2 separate regions of the Homo sapiens genome follow, and region 2 is linked to region 1. The links come from fine-mapping of genetic effects on gene expression. Tissue or cell type: thyroid. Region 1 holds a variant in brackets; the other region holds the start of a gene. All regions are shown on one strand. Distances are between the middles of the regions.

Region 1 (8,107 bases):
TTCAGGTTAAATGAGGTCATAAGTGTGGAGCCCTGTTCCAATAGGATTAGTGTCCTTATAAGAGACACCAAGGAGCTCTCTCCCTCTTCACAAGCTCACAAAGAGGTTCTGTGAGTACACAGCCAGAAAGCAGCCACTAAGAGAAGAGGCCTCAGGATAAAACCTACTTTGCCAACATCTTGATCCTGGGCTCCTGAGACTCTCAAAACGTTAGGAATAAAATCTGTTGTTTAAGCCACCCAGGCTGTGGTATTTTGTTATGATAGTTTTAGCAGACCAAAACAGGGCTGTTCACATCTCCACTTACCCATTCATAGTTTCTCTCCAAGGTTGTATTTCCTAGATAACTAGATAAAGAGGATTCCATCACCACACTGGTTCTAATTCTAAATGTTTATCCTACAAATATGATCTTATTTTTATAATCTTATAAAGTTATAGACCCATTATCTGTAAGAAAACTATATACATGTTGCAGAAAAAGGATCAAATACCAAAGAGTCATTTCAGCAAGTAACTAACCTGCCATGTAATCCAACTTTGCCAGCATATGAGAAAGCAGGTTTAATTTGGGAGTAGAGGAATAGAGCCACTAGGAAGGACTGGATCAGGGCCTCTACCAGACACTGTGAAGAATCTTTGTGTGAATTGAAAAAGGCAATCCTTCCTTGAGTTAAAAAAAAAAAGGATAATTTATTATTATACAACCAGACCCAGGGTACATGGTCATTCTGGTGTGGGGAAAATAGGAATGTAGGCAGCCACCCCACTTGGCATCATTAGGTAATCCCAGCCAACAGGGATGATGAGTGGTTATCTCATGTCATTATTTCTCTTGGTCAAAATTAGTCTCATTTTGGGTTCATCATATTGAATGATGATTCTAAAAGGCTCTGTGGAAAGAGAATCTCCTCTACTGCTCATGGAGAATACTATTCATCCTTTCTAGTTACTCCATGCCAAATCAATTCTGGTTCAAGACCAAAGCTAATATTAGAAGAAAAAAAGTTTTCAAGTGTTTGTTTATTTTAAAAGAACAAAATCTACTCTAGGGAATAGTGGAAAGTGTAATCCTTCTTCCCACAGGGGTGTGGTAGGGGGTGTTATGTGAGGCCAGGCCTAAGAGAAAAGACAAGGAAAGGTTGTTTTTTTTCCCTCATTTTCAGACTAGCCATCTGTGACTTAAAAATAAAAAGAAGGAAAGAAAAAGTCTTGGAGAATCTTGGCTTCCCCTTTGCCAATATATTTGAGAGTTCACTTTCTGTTCAGAATGTGAAAGGGACATAATTATTTCCACATCTGACTAATATGCACTTATTTGTGAAGGGCCATAATCCCGTAACCCATCTGGATCAGGGTCTTGGTTGTATTGAAAGTCAAAAAATGAGGGCTGTTTTCATCCTGGCTCCTCTTCTGACTGAGTCACCATGTCCTTGGGCAAGTTATTTCCTCTCTGTGTACCCGCTTTTAAAAACAGAGAGATAATAGTGTTCCTGACCTCCTTACCTCACTGGGATGTTGTCAGCATTAACAAGCAATAGACTCATATTTTTAGAGTAGACAGAAAGAAAATTGCTTAAATTTTAAAATATTATTTTTTTCTTCCCATAGATCTATTTTGTTCATCTTAAAGTTCCAAAATGGATCACAGGGGACAAATCTTTGGAGTCTTTCCAGTTTTCTTAAGAAAAATATGAAGACCAATGACATTAATTTATTTTGGGGGAGTTTTTACAGACAGTAAGTTACCAAACAAATAAAAATCATGGGATGAACTATTAAGAAAAAATAATCACAGTGTAGTAAAAATAGCACTGAATTGAGAGTTGAGAAAAAAAATCTCGGTTCTAGGTTTTGATTACTAACTTATTTAAGTCAAGTTATACTTCTCTAAGCCTCAGTTTACAGATTCAAAAAATGAGAGCCTATGATAATAATAGTTATCAGGTCTAGGGTACTGAATTTAACAAGATTCAAATAATATATGTAAATACTCGTTACAATTATAAAACACTGTGCAAATACTAGATTTTGTTGCTACTGTGAGCATACCAGCCCATCTCTGTGGTTACCACAGCATCACCTCATTGCTTCAAGGACAGTGGTTACACCAATTTACTTGGACATGAAAAGAGTGTCCAGCATGTTCCACATAATTAGAGCTCCTACCCAGCCATTTTTCACTTTGACGGGGAAAAAAAGGAAGGGAAGGGCTGTGTTCCATGTTTAGGACACCCTTTGATTCAGATATAAAATGAGAGCTTTGAGGCTGAGGTGATGGGTCTGTGCTGACTCAGGAAATGAACTGTCTTCTTCCAAGGAGCCTTAAGTTCTACCCATTTCAGGGTGTGTCAGCAGAGACACAGAAAGTCAATATTCCATACAGTAAGGTTTGAAGCACTGCTGATCTACTCAAGGACTGAAGGAAAGGACGGTGGAAGAAGGCTTCCAATATTTTCCAACATTGGATGGCAAGAAAGCAGCTTTGCTAGATGACAGCTACAGTCCCCTCCAACCCTGCAGCTCAATCAGTCTATGAATCAGCAAACCATAAAAATAATTAAGGAAGTACACATAGTCTCCTTGACTCCTTTGTCCTTTTTTTGGTGACACAGCCATTCTGAGTCAGTTCAGAAATAACCTGGGTTTTCAGTTTACCAGAGTCTGTCAACCTTTCTCGGCCACTCCAAGCCATCCTTATAATACTTTGTTCTTTACAGACCACCCCTCTCAATTCTGCCCTTAATGATCTTCTTATATCATTGTATATTTTTCTATCAGGATCTGCCTTAACAACCAGATTGTAAAGTCTTTGGGTGCACAAAGGCATCACACTTCTGGCTTTTCATGGCACTTTGTAATCTTAATTCTCTGAGGTTCATACTTGTTGATGAAATCAATCATTCCAGGGTCACTCTTTGTGTGTTTTTGCCTTTGTTTCACTGGTCCTTGAACATCATGCCCCACGTCACAGCATTTCCTTCTGATGCTTTGTTCTGAATTTCCATTCCTGTTTACGCTGCCACTCCAGAAAACTTAAGTACCATCCAAAGACCATGTTCACAAATGTCTAATGGGAAGTGAGCCATGAGATGCTAGCCATAGTGGGTCTATGTGCTATAAAAAAACTTAAAAAGTACTCAGTGTAGGAAAAATTTCACAACAACCATTCCATGGTGAAAAATAAATAT[T/C]GGCAATAGGCATGAGAGGGAAATAAGAAAAAGAGAGACTCATTTCTCAAAACTGAATGGCAAGTGACAACTGTGCATTACTTTGACTATGCAGTGATTCCAAGAGCAAATGTGGAAGAAAGAACTTCTAGAAGTTTAAATTCTACTCTCATATTTTTGCCCTACCTATTTCTACACTTGATTTACACTCTGCAGAATAGAGAAGATCACTGAGTTCAAAGAACATTCAGTAGTAGGCAGGATTGTGGGTGAAAAGGAAGAGTGGAAAAGAAGGAAAGAGCAGAAACTCTGACCTATTCAGAATACTATGTTCATCTTCCTTTGCACCTACACTGGGAAAATGGTTGTTGAAACACTGAAAGAAGGCAACAATTTCAACACATTGAATGGAATATAGTGGATTAATAGTTCAGTTTTATGTTCCAGTTATTGAGTCAAGAATATTGATGCCCAGGGCTAATGATTACTTTACGGTGAGTACATGGTAAACTGATGGCCCTATGTGTTCACAACTCCCTGTATCCATACCCTTTGCAATATGCCTTTGCATATCCGTCCTTTGCTAGTTGAGGTCTATTTTCATGCTTCTTATGCCTGGGCTCGCTTTTGTGACTTGCTTTGGCCAACAGAATGCAATATGATGGGGTACAATCAAGAAACCTTGCATGCTTTACCTCTCTCTTGTCTCAGAACCCAATTTCTAGCATGAAAATAAGCCTAGGCTAGCCTGCTGGATGAGAAGAAATACACAGTCCCATCCTCCATATCACCCAAACTGATAGCCAGCCATGTGAGTGACACTATTCTATATCAGCCTGTTTCTAACTGACCCAACAGCAGACATAAGATGCATCGTTGAGCTCAGCAGAACTAAGCAAAGATCAGATAAGCAGAACCCAAAACTATCTAGCTAGCCAACAGTCTCATCAGGAATAATAACTGCAACAAAAGATAATTGATACAGAGTCATTCAATCAATAGTTTGGCCAGACACTTTGCCTACTAAGAGAGGCATGTACATAAATCTGGAGATAGCCAGGAGCCTGAGCCAGTAGTTTTCAGAGTTTATACTCCTACCAGGGCTGTTTGGAATCCAGAATAAGTAGTTCCAAAAATAAATTTAAAGCTCCAGAGAACATTTTTAATAATAATGATCTTAGAAGCTAACATACGTGAAATGGTTACTACAAAGCCATAATCTCCTCTAATTTCATCAAATATAAGCTATTATTATCCTATTTTATGGATGAGAAACTGAAAGTAAGAGAAGTTAAGTTGGTAACTAGAGCTGAGATGGAAACCTTGTTGAGTCTGATGCCTAACCCCAGGTTATAAACACTGCACAATAGTGTGTCACTGGAGATGTGGCAGTATTTTCACAGCTGGCAACCAAGGACCAATCTTGGAGGCAACTCTCCTATCTACAGTAGAAATGGTATTTGGGGTAACTATCTAGGCTTATTCAAAGGAACAGGAGGAAAGGGGGCAGCTGGAGAGAAGGTAGTTGCTTAACACCTGACAGATGTTATTACAGCAATAAACAAGCCCAGCAAATCCTCCTTCCCTCTTTAGAACATTTGTCTCCATGGTGAAATAATGCAAAACTGGGCAAGAATCAGTCATAACCTGGGAGAAGGGAGGGCTCAGGGTCACAGAGGCTTAGCAGAGTCCTCTTTGCTGACTCTGACTCATCAATCCCTGAGGAGTTAAGCACTTGCTTAACAGCTCTCCCAGTCATTTCAATAGGCAACAGGAGAAGGGGACAGAGCAAGCAGGAATCTCATGCCATTGTAAAGTTTTTAGATTTGATTTGGGATTTCTCAGTCTCCCCTGTGAGCATTGCAAAATATTTCTGCCCATTCTGGGTATGATTAATCTATCCAATCCACATGAAAATTACCATATTGAGTGCTCCAAAAATATTCTGTGTTGAAGAATCAGTTTATAAGTTAATTCCATTGTATAGAATTAATAATAATTAATTCTACTCTCAAAGGCAACCCTATGATGTAGGTATTAGTATTTTCATTTTAACAGATGAAGAATTTAAAGTTTGGAGAGCGGATAAGCAACTTGCCAAAAATCACAAAGCTGGGCCCCCAGTCAAATCTAGTTTGGCAACCGCCAGAACCCATGCTTTCAACCATTCGCTACTGTCTCTTATGACTACCATGGTAATAGAAATTTTATTTTTAGTATACTAGTAATTTTCTGGAGGTCAGGGACAAGAATAAGATTCAGCTTGAACTCTTGCCTATATTCTCTTTAGAACTTGGAAATGGCACTGAAGATAGAATTCCAAAGATGTCAGCACCTTGACAGGTAAGTCCTGAGCATCTTGAGACTTCATTATCTTCCAAATTATCACATTTCCAGATTCCTTACAGCTAATTTCAACTCTGCCAAAACTGAACAGCAAAACCATCAGACTTTTCTTTAGGTATTTATAGTTTTTTGTTTTTGTTTTTTAATGCACCCAAGACATAGCTCCTAGTTCCTGAATCAACTATGCCAGTGTTTCTCTGAGCCACGCTAAAGGTCTGAGATATGTTCTTACCCAACTAATCTGTTCTCATTTGGGACACAGAAAAAAAGCACATTCCAGGAATAAGGTTGGGTGCATTCAAGTGAAGGATACAAGTCAGGGGCATCCAAGAGACTCAGCACGTTCTGTGGTTATTTTCTTAAACTTACTTGTGTGATGGTGAGTTTTTGTGTGTCGAATGCCTGAGTTACAGGTGGGCAATATGAATGCCAGATCTCTACAAAACTCATCATTTTCTTATCATTTCCTTCTTCTTACCCCTTAACACTTGCAGACAGCGCATGTTTGAAGTTCAAGTTTCCAGCCATCACAAGTGTCATTGCATACGACTATAGCAAAGTGGAGAAGGAATTCATCAAAGTCCTCCAATACAGCCCTCCCCCACGCATGGAGTCTAACGCACTCTTTTAAGGATAAATCTAACTTCTGTTCAAATAGTTCTAATACAGGCAACTCATGAGCTTGCAGGATGAATGATTAATTAATTAATTATTTGAGTGGTTCAATTTACTAGTACAACAGACAGATATTAAAACTTTCTTTATCTGTCAAGCATTGCCCAGTGACGGAGTTAGATGATAAAACATCCTACTCTCAAGAAACTGACAGTCCAACATAAGAAACACAATCAGCCTCCCTTTAGCATGTCACCCCTCTTTCACGGTTCTCTTTTAAGGTGCCACAGAGTAAATTCAGTCCTTTCTCTACTTAACACCCTCAGCTATCTGTTAGGTATCATCTCATGTTTACAATCCTGGATCTTTCAAACTATAACATGGCTTAAGGTTTTGTCCTTCAATGGCTACTAGGATTATCCTAGTAGTTCTCCTCTAGCTCTACCCTAGGTCAATCGCCCTTCTAAAATCAGGAGCCAACTATTGAATTAAACATTTAAGGATGCCGGAAGACCATGGTCTTCCCATATCAATGGCTTCCAAATCAGATTTAAAGCCAAAATTTCAGTTTTAAATACTTATCTCTGGAAATAAATGATTCCTATGAAATGCCCCTAAAACAAACACAATGTGAAGTTCCTATCAGTCAAAGATATTTTTCACAATGAGCTGTAAGTTTTCTACTTTTGACAGAGAAGAACAGGAGAATAGTTTCTAACCAAAGAAAAATAGGAAAGAAAGTCCACTAGTGCTGGAAAATATTTACCTAGGTATTGACTTCATTGATGTAGCATCAATGTTGACCATGCTAAAGACTATGAAAAGAATGCAGGGTTTGTTATTACTATATTTCTAGATATTAATGACCAACATTTAGTCTTTCGTGACTTCTATCAACTGCTTTCTACTTCTTAAATTTTTTTGCGCCTATGATTGCCCCTTCTCTACCAGCTTCATTGGCTTTTTATTCTGTTTAGATATTTTAAATGTTAGCATTCTCTAGTATCTGACTTTCATTTCCATGTTAAGTTTCAAGCCTCTTCATGAGCTTCCCATTGCTTCCATCAGTCTAAAAGCTGGCAACTGTACCCCTCAATCTGTATCTCCAGCCTGGACCTCTCTCCTGGGATCCACAAGTATATTGCCAATTTCCTAACCCACTGTATTGCCTTTGAGCACATCAAATCAATTATTCTCTTTTCCAAATATGTTTCTCCTTCCATATTCATAATCTCTGTTCATTTTGTCACCGTCCACCTTATTAACAAGCTAGCAAATCCTGTCTATTCTACCTCAGGACTATTCCCTGATTGCAGCCTTTCCTTTATAGCTGCAGGTATCACAACTAGAAAATAGCTTATTTTTCTGTTCTTGTTTCTCTCCTGTTTATTCCATCTTCCACATTGCTCCCATAATTATGCTCCTAAAATAAATGAATGAATTGGTATAATCTGAACATACCAATCTCCTTCCTGTAACTGTTTGTGGTGCCTGTCACCTTTACAGAAAATAGTCTAAAATTATTATATAACAAAAATCTCCTTCACTATCTGTCTCCAACTGTACATCTTCTACATAAACCCACTCCCAGACCATTCTCTGCACCTCAGTACACCCACTCTATACACATACAAACTCTGCTTCAGCCACCATGAACTTCTTACTTGATCTTTTTCTTAAACATAACCTATAATGATTTTGTCTTTGACTGTGCTGGTCTGTTTTCCTGAATGCCTATCTCTTTTTCAAGCTGACAAGCTCATATTTGTCCTTCAAAATCCAACCCAAATCTTTTCTCTTCTGGGAGACAATTTCTGACTCATCCAGACAGTAATAAATTTCCTCCTATGCATTGGTGAATTATCAAAAATATTATTGTGCATCAGACACCAGACATGCTAGACACTATGCTGGATAACGGATATACCATGTTTAGTTAGGAAGATAGAAAAGTCCCTACTTTATGGGATGTACAA
Region 2 (8,107 bases), 260 kb before region 1:
AAAAAAAAATCCCACTAAAACAGTATAATTTCTGCTCTTCCTATGAAATATATTACTTGGTTCCCTCCTTCATTTAATTTTTTTAGATGTGGATTTAATTCATCATTGCAATATGCCCACGTCTCATGTTATCCTGTTGAAAACATAAAAACACACAGTATTTAAACATTTCCTATTTGAGACATTATTCTAGATCATAGTCAATCTACTGTGTATATATACATATAAAATGTATATATAAAATGTATATATACACACACACATATAATTTATACACACATACACATGTACCTATGATAATATCAGATCAACAAATGTTAACTTTATACAAGTATTTGCAAGAAAAAATAGGGCATTTTCTCCACCATTCACAAGCTTATGTTATTTTCTTCTTGAGGCAGTCCCTGATAAAATAAAATAATCATTAAACCATAAAATAATTTTGCCACTTCAAATTTTCAGAAGGCAACAGGCACTTTGATGTATATTGGTGTGTAACAAATATAATCTCTCTTCATATAGTCTACTATATCTCTTCTAATTGGGTATTTTTATCTGTTAAATCTTTGGTCCTTGAGCACACTTTCTTTGTTACAGCTGTTTTTGCTTGCATTTTTACATTTTAAAAATGTGATCTATGCACGCAGCTGGAATTAATGGATTGTGTCATCATAAGTTCTGCTGATTGTTACGAGAACTGCACCAACCTACTACTGTTCATTTGGAGCAAGCCGTTTGTTAGCAAAACAAGATCATTCCACAGAAAGCACTTGCTACAAGCCTCAGACAGTAATCCCAACGTTGGAGTTCCCCTTTTTCCTGTATTGTTACTATTAATATCTGAACTCCTAAACTGATTCACAAGTTGGAGTGAGACCTTTTTTCCTCCGTATTTTCCCTTTTATGAATTCCATCTTAAAAGAAACTTTCCACTTTTTTTTTTCCTATGGCAAAGCTATGGGAGCAGATACAGCAAACCCATATTGTCATCACACATTTCTTCTCTTGTATCAGGAGAACCTGGTTGCTTCTAATGACAGGTCTCTCTTTTTTTGCAGGATAGAATCCAATTGGGTAGGAGAATAAGAGAAGGGAAAAGGATCCTTTCGAGATCATGCTCCCACATCTATTAAAAGATACATAAGCTTTGCCAAACTTAAAACCAGGAGCATATCATCATTGCACAAAACACATCCCTAATAAGGGCTGGATCACTCTTTTTTTTTTCTTTTTTTTTTTTTTCTCTCCTGTCTTGTCTGAAATGGCTTCCCCACAGGACATTTTTAAATGATTCTTAATTGCAGGGTAGCCAAGTGGAGTAGGTCTGTTGCTGGCACGTGAATACTGGCTGAACCTGTGCAATGTAGTAATTGCTAAAGTTGGCATCTGCTACATAGGGGGCTGGCTGGTAATAGCAAGTGACATTAGCCACATTAGGAATGACATTTTGGTCAGCTAACACCCGGATAGCCAGCATGGTGATAAGGTTTAAAGTCTGTCTTCTTTCATGTCCCATCAGGCACACTGTGCTCTCATTTACCACTCCATGAAGGGTCATGAGATACTCATACTTGCGGTCTTCCAATCCCACAAAGTGGTTCTGCAAATAGGACTCCAGTTTTCTCTGCTGCTCTCCAATGTCTGAGAAGTCGATGAAAAACCTGGAACACATATACCTTTGAAGGGTCTTGATTTCATCAGAGGCGGGCCTAAAGCCCCTCACCAAGAGGTTGCAGTACTTAAGCAGGCCTCCCCCTCGGATTTCCTCTGGGTTCCTGGTGGCAATGATCTTGTTACAAAGGTGATCAAAGGCTTCCTGGAAATCGCCATAGACGCTCTCCCCGATTATTGTGGGGTGAAATGTCTCAGTCATTGGGTTCTCTGAACATTCATAAAAGAGCAGAAGAGAGTCTAATTTGATTTGAAAAGAATCTACACTGAATTCAAACTGCCTCCGGAGGGAATCCACAAATTTCAGTTCCACATTTTTGCCACTGTTGTTTGACAGGGATATAAGACTCCATCGGTCAGAGTCATTGCACACTTTAACCATTTTCTGCACATAAGCTTCCTACAATTTAAAAGATAAAACAAAATGAGCAAACCTAGAAAATAATAAATCAATAAATAAATACATCCTCTTCACAGCTGAGAATTATTTTGCTCTTTCCCTTTTGTTTTGTCAAGTTTCAGCCAAACACTACCTACAGGCTTAAACGGTCTTCTGAAAATAGAAAAAAAATACTTTTAACGAGTAGTTTTACTGTCTGGGAAAGGGACTAGAGGTAATAGTTTGAGGCTTTTGGCAGACGTAGCACAGTAGTAAGAGGTTTTGTTGTCATGTCTGACTTTTTAAGTGTTACTTTTTGAAAACGGTCTAATAGGCACAATATTCACACAGTATCCAAACAACATTCAAAAGACTCGGAAGGGCATTCAGCGGTAGGTTAGTCAGCCTCTCGCCCTTGTTCCAAGCCACCCAATTCCTCTCCGCCTGCGGCAATCAATGTTATCAGTATCTTGTGTGTCCCTCCAGGGGCACCCTGCAGTTACAATCAAATATAAACTAAATTATGACATTCCAGGAGCCTGCCTCCTCAGACAATTTTAACTAATCATATAAAACCCGTCTTGAACTAAAGTGGAGGGTGGGGAGGGGGTGCCACTATACCCTTAACATATGAACCAGCACGAAGAACCACCAGATAGACCTTTAACACGTAGTCAGCTGAATGCCGCTGTGAAATCTATTCACCTTTTCCAGTACAATAAAAAACTCATTGACTCACTTCTGCTTCAGGCTGTTATTTTCCCAAAGGCTAGACTCAAATATAATGACTCAAAAATTATTTACATCATTTCATTCTGCCAAGTATCAGAATCTACTCTGGACAAGACTCCAACAGGGAAAGCCAAGAGTTAAAACATAAGGAGAAAGAAGAGAAGAGAGGGCAGAGGAGGACCTGGGAGAAGAGTTGTAGCGCCAAAGCATCAAGTAAACTGAAACACTCAACACCGTCCACGCACGTCAGTTTACTGGTTTAAAAAATCAAAAATCAAAGAAATAACGCGCGCCCAAACTCGTGATGGCCACAGATTCATGGCATTTAACCGATGCCCCTCTGCCCGCTCCCCGTCACACCCGGCCCAGACTGGGTCAGGACCCAAGTGCATCTCGGGTGGTGTTACCTTGAGCGTGAGTGGTGTGATCTTCTCTTTGTTCACCCCCTCGGGTAAGAAGTCCAACAGGCAGTCCAGCACGACGTCCTTCACAGTCTGAAACTCCCCTTCCCCGCGCAGGTCGGCGCAGAAGATGAGGTCCAGGTCCTTGTAGCCCAGGCCGCTGTCCTGGTGCAGGACATGGCTGGCTGCCGAGCCGTTGAGGCGCACGTCGCGGACGCCAATGCGCTTCTCGGCCAGGCGCCGCCGCACCACCTTCACGATCAGGCTCGGCTGCAGCTCGAGCGTGGGGAAGTTGCCGCGCCCGTGAATCGGAATGGTCTCGCTCAGGATGCCGTCCAGCCGCTGCACTTGCTCCCAGTTCAGCACATTGCAGTGCGCCGTAGGGCTTTCGCAATAGTCCAAGCAATGCCCACCGAAGCTGCCGCCACCGCCGAAGTCGCCGCCGCCGAAGTCGCCGCCGCCGAAGTCGCCGCCGCCGAAGTCGCCGCCTAGGGGGATGTAGGGGCTGCAGGCCAGCTCGTCCTCAGACATGGCGAAGTACCCTTCACCCTCCGCCATGTAGTGCCCGCCGAGCGCCACTTGGCCCTGGTCAGTCCTAAAAAGAAAGGGAAAGGAGCGCGGTGAGGACGCGCGGCGGCGGAGAGCACGCGCGGCGGCGGAGAGCAGAGGCCCGCCAGGAAAAGAGCGCCCCCTCCCCCGATAGTTCCCTGACCCCGGGCCTCCTCGGAGACTCCCTCCCCCGGCCCTTACAGTCCCCAGCCGCGCACCGCGCCCCGCAGAGCAGCCCCGCACCAAAAGTATCTCTGATGCATCTGGAAAGCGCAAGCGAGAGTCCCGTCTGTGTCACCTGGAGGCGGCCGCCCCTTCTAGGAGCGCAGCGAGCGAGAGCGAAACCGAGAGGCGGCAACACTTCCAGGAGCTGCGAGCGCGCTCAGACAGCAAATAGCGACTTCGTCTTTCCCAGACCCCTGCCGCCTGCGCTCACCACTCCCTCCCCGCGACCCCTCCTGCGCCGCTGCCACCCCAGCTGCGGTGGTCCCGAACTGGCGGCTCTTGCTGCCACACACGCTCGTGTCTCTGGAGCTTTAGCAGTTGTGCGGGGAAAATGTCTTCAGTACTTTTTTTATACCGGGCTTCTCTGCGCTTCCGGGGCCCAGAGCGGCACGTTCGCCACACCCTCCTCATCTGCATAGGGCGCCGCCCCCTCTGCCCTCCCCCGCCCGCAGGGCACGCAGCTGACTAGCCCAGCAGTTAGTGCGGGACGACTGCCGGTGAGCGTGAGGTCCTGGGCTGTATGTGCGGATACTGTGTGCGCCCGTAGATGCGTGTATTTATACATACATTTAATTTATGTACGCCCCCTCCCACAAATCTCTTTTCATTTTCCCCAGGAGGAGACACTTTAAATGCCCCAGGAATCATAAGTGGTCATCAAAACCAGATCACGACTAAAATCCTGCAACTGCAGAAACTTCCCAAAATTCTCGCGGACTCAGCCCGTCTTTAGATCATCACGGTTGGGCTCCGGAGGTTCCTCACGACCGCTCTTTTAAACCTCGGTTTTTAGGTAGACCATTTACTCCATTGATAAACCCGATCCAAGTGTGGACTCATGAGTCCACTCTTGCACGCAAATCAGTCACGGCGCGTGAGTGGGAAGGGCTTGTTGATAACTGGGTTTCGATTCTCGAAACCTCGGGAAGCGCGCCGGGGAGCTCTGGGCGAGCCCGAGAAGGCGCGGGGGCGGCACCACGGGCCTCGGGCGTGCGCGGCTCCTGCGCACGAGTGGCTCCAAGGGGCCAGTACTTCGCGGGGGTCAGGGCGCGTCACGGAGCAGACGCGGGCGAGCAGCCAATGGCCGAGGACTGGGCGGGCCGAGTGGGCGCAGAGAGCGCGCCCGGGGAGTGCGTGCTGCCCCGGAGTCCAGGGAAAGGGCCGCTAGGTGTCCGGTGCCTTTGCTGCGAGTTCTCTGACAAAATTGGAGGCGGCGAAGCGCGTTCCTCGCGGCCCCCTAAAGTTTGGCCATTTTAAGTGCATCATAGTGTCAGTGGAATACGATTTGGTTTTCCACGAGACGTAAAAGTAGGAGTTTCAAGAATAAAATGAATTCTCTCCTCCAGCTTCGGTGACTTCGGCAGAGCTAATTCTACGCACGCTCACTCGCGCCACCACCACTCTTTGCTAGAAAGCTGTGGCCGTCTCTTCGGCAGCTCGCTGCCTCCATCAACTAACCCGGAGCAGCTTTCCCAGCGCCTAGACGCTGCCGGGGGCTGAGGTGGGGCAGAGGGGAGAATGCCAGGGTCACAGAATACTCCCCAAACCCTGCTCAGCCCTGCCCGCCCAGACTGGGAGGAAAAACAGCCCGCACCTCCTAACTGGGGGAGCCCCGGCCTAGTCACTCAAGCTGCGCGGCTCGGGGGTGAGGGGTAGGGTGCGGGGGTGTCACCCGTGGAGCATCCAGCTGCGTGACAACGCCGCCCCCTCCCGGTGCCCTGCCGAGCTGCGTCCCAAAATGGAGAAATCCGACTGTCTCTGTGGCAGAGGCCATCCCCTCAGCGCTGCGCCTAAGCACTGAGGTGCGCCTGGGGACTCTAGGACAACTACCCTGTCCGCATAGGGCCATCGCTTCCTTCAGAGCACACCCATGTGTTCCTCTGACCAGCCATCGGCGCATGAATCTATCTTAACCAGGCATTTTATACATATATATACATATGCATATTCTTGTGTGAGCATGTGTATAGAGAGAGCATTTAGTGACCTGTTACGTGCCAGGCAACAGGCTAAGTGCTGAAGATTTAAGAATGACATTTCACGTAATCTAGAGGGCATAGCACCTAGGTGCATAATTATGGTTCAGTTGCATATGTATTATGAGAGAAGTATATTCTGACGCAATCGCGTGGCGGGCTAACTACATAGGAAACGGAGAGACACCCGAGAAGGTGTCATTTGGACTGGATCTTGAAAGAATGGATGTTCTTTCAGTAGTCGGGGAAAGAGGAGAAGAGCGTTATCTACAAAGGGAAGCGTATGGAGTTGGAGAATGTTTGAGGAAGGATATGTACACTCCCGTGATTAATAAATGAGATTGGTAGTGCCTTGAGATAAGGTTTATGAGTACCAGGAACTTATTGAACACGTCTGGGCTATAACCTGTTTAGCTCCTTAACATAATACCTAATTTAATCTTCAAGAAGAAGGTATTTCCATCTCCTAGGGATCTAGAAACAGAGGAATCCAAGAAGTTAAGAAACATTCCCAAGTTCCACAACTAATAAGTTGTGGGGTCAGGCCTTTAACCCAACCCATTTGGCTGTGAATGCTGTTTAGTGGTCATTACGGGGTAACGAGTGGTCTGTAGCTTATCAGTACCTTCTTATTGGAAAACAAGACAAGCACAAATAGGAAGAAGGAACGATGGGGAGGGGAGGGAAGGGGAGGGGGAAAAGAAGAAAAGGAAATGGAGGAAGGGAGGGGAAGGGAAGGGAAAAAGAAAAGAAAAGGGGGGGAAGAGAAGAGTAAAGAAGAAAAGAGAAGAGAAAAGAAAAAGAAAAGAAAAAAGACCTGTTAAAAATGTTTCTTTCAAAGACCGGTATGAATTCTGCCCCTTCTTAAAACAAAGCCAAAGTAATAGATCGTATATTAGACACGCTGTACTTTAAAAACCAAGGGTGTGTGCATGTGTGTGTGTTTAGCTCTACTACAATTATTTTGTACTTTATTTTTACCCTTGCTCCAAAAACTGAAAATAAAGAAGACTCTTAGAGCTGATGGACACCTGCCTATGCATACCCAGGATTTCGTTCTGTAGCACCAAAGGAATCTGCATTTTGGCAAGCTGTCATGGTGATCCTGACACAAGGGCCCAGCCACACTTTGCGCTGCACTGAGAACAGCCACCATAGTCCAGTTCTCTAAGTGGGGACCCTCCCCCAAGCAAAGGCTGATCCCATGGCCATTCCCAGAAATGGAGGGCACAACTGAGAGGTGGAAGCACAGCATGAAGCTGGACTTGCAGGGCCCGCTTACGTGCTATATGCTGTGCTGGGGAGAAGAAGATAATCCCAGCAGCAGTGTGCCAAGACCGCCTCTCCCCCAAGCATCCAATGCTTTGTGGCTGACACTTCCTTAAACCTTTAACAAAACATTCCCCCTTTCCCAACCATAATCCAGACCCTACTGCCTCCTGCATTGGGACATCTGGGATATCTTACTTTTGGCAATGCCTTTGTGGGCAATTTAATCTTTGACTGGATTAATATGTGCCTGATACATAGTGACCAATCATTACATACTGTTGAATGAAAGCATATGTTGTTCACTGTCCCACTTTTTCCTGTCTTCAAACTGAAATAATATTTACATTCTAGGAAAAAATATCCATCCTTAAATAAAATTGCATATTCTGCTATTGAAACCATAATTTTTTTCTAGATAACCAAAATAATTATGAAATGAGAACGCCTATACTTTCCAAATACATTCACAACTAAGATATTTCTCAACACAGTTACTCTTAGATTAAATTTAGATGCAAAGTTGCTAAATTTTTCCCCCAGGCTTTAGCTTCTGAACCTATTTGATAAATTATTTACTTTCTCCCACTTAAAAGGAAAAAAAAAAACACCTGTGGCAATATGAAGCTCTTAGTTGATAAAGTTAAGACCACCACAAAACTGAAATACGGACAGCCTAAATTTAAACTGCTTTCTAAGCGAGCAGAAAAAAAGTCCTTATCCTGAAAGTTTTAAAGGAAAGCTTTGCATAGAATTTTGAGAAAGAAACACTTATAATTAGTTCATCTTATTTTTAAAGTTACAGTAACAATCAATCTGGACTTAGCAAAATAAGATGTTCAGCTTCGGCCTTAATGATAGTTATTATTATTGAGTTTGTTATTATATCCCAGAAACTCTGCTAA

What was found. PIP is the estimated chance that this variant, and not a neighbour inherited with it, causes the effect.
Region 2: TENT5A starts here. The variant in region 1 is fine-mapped to the expression of TENT5A in thyroid (GTEx, PIP 0.99).

What each region holds. Positions count from the first base shown.
Region 1 is chr6:82,012,678-82,020,784 of GRCh38, forward strand. All of the region lies in intron 3 of LINC02542 (long intergenic non-protein coding RNA 2542), which reads right to left. LOC107986617 (a long non-coding RNA gene) reads left to right here and starts at 4,927. Exons shown (of 4, transcript XR_001744231.2): 1 at 4,927-5,365; 2 at 5,461-5,513. RefSeq lists an enhancer at 4,715-5,009. The variant T/C (reference allele first, on the strand shown) is at 3,192.
Region 2 is chr6:81,748,401-81,756,507 of GRCh38, forward strand. TENT5A (terminal nucleotidyltransferase 5A) reads right to left here and starts at 4,281. Exons shown (of 3, transcript NM_017633.3): 1 at 4,031-4,281; 2 at 3,190-3,778; 3 at 1-2,071. The coding sequence starts at 3,741. The coding sequence ends at 1,295. RefSeq lists enhancers at 3,942-4,442, 5,303-5,352 and a silencer at 4,353-4,482.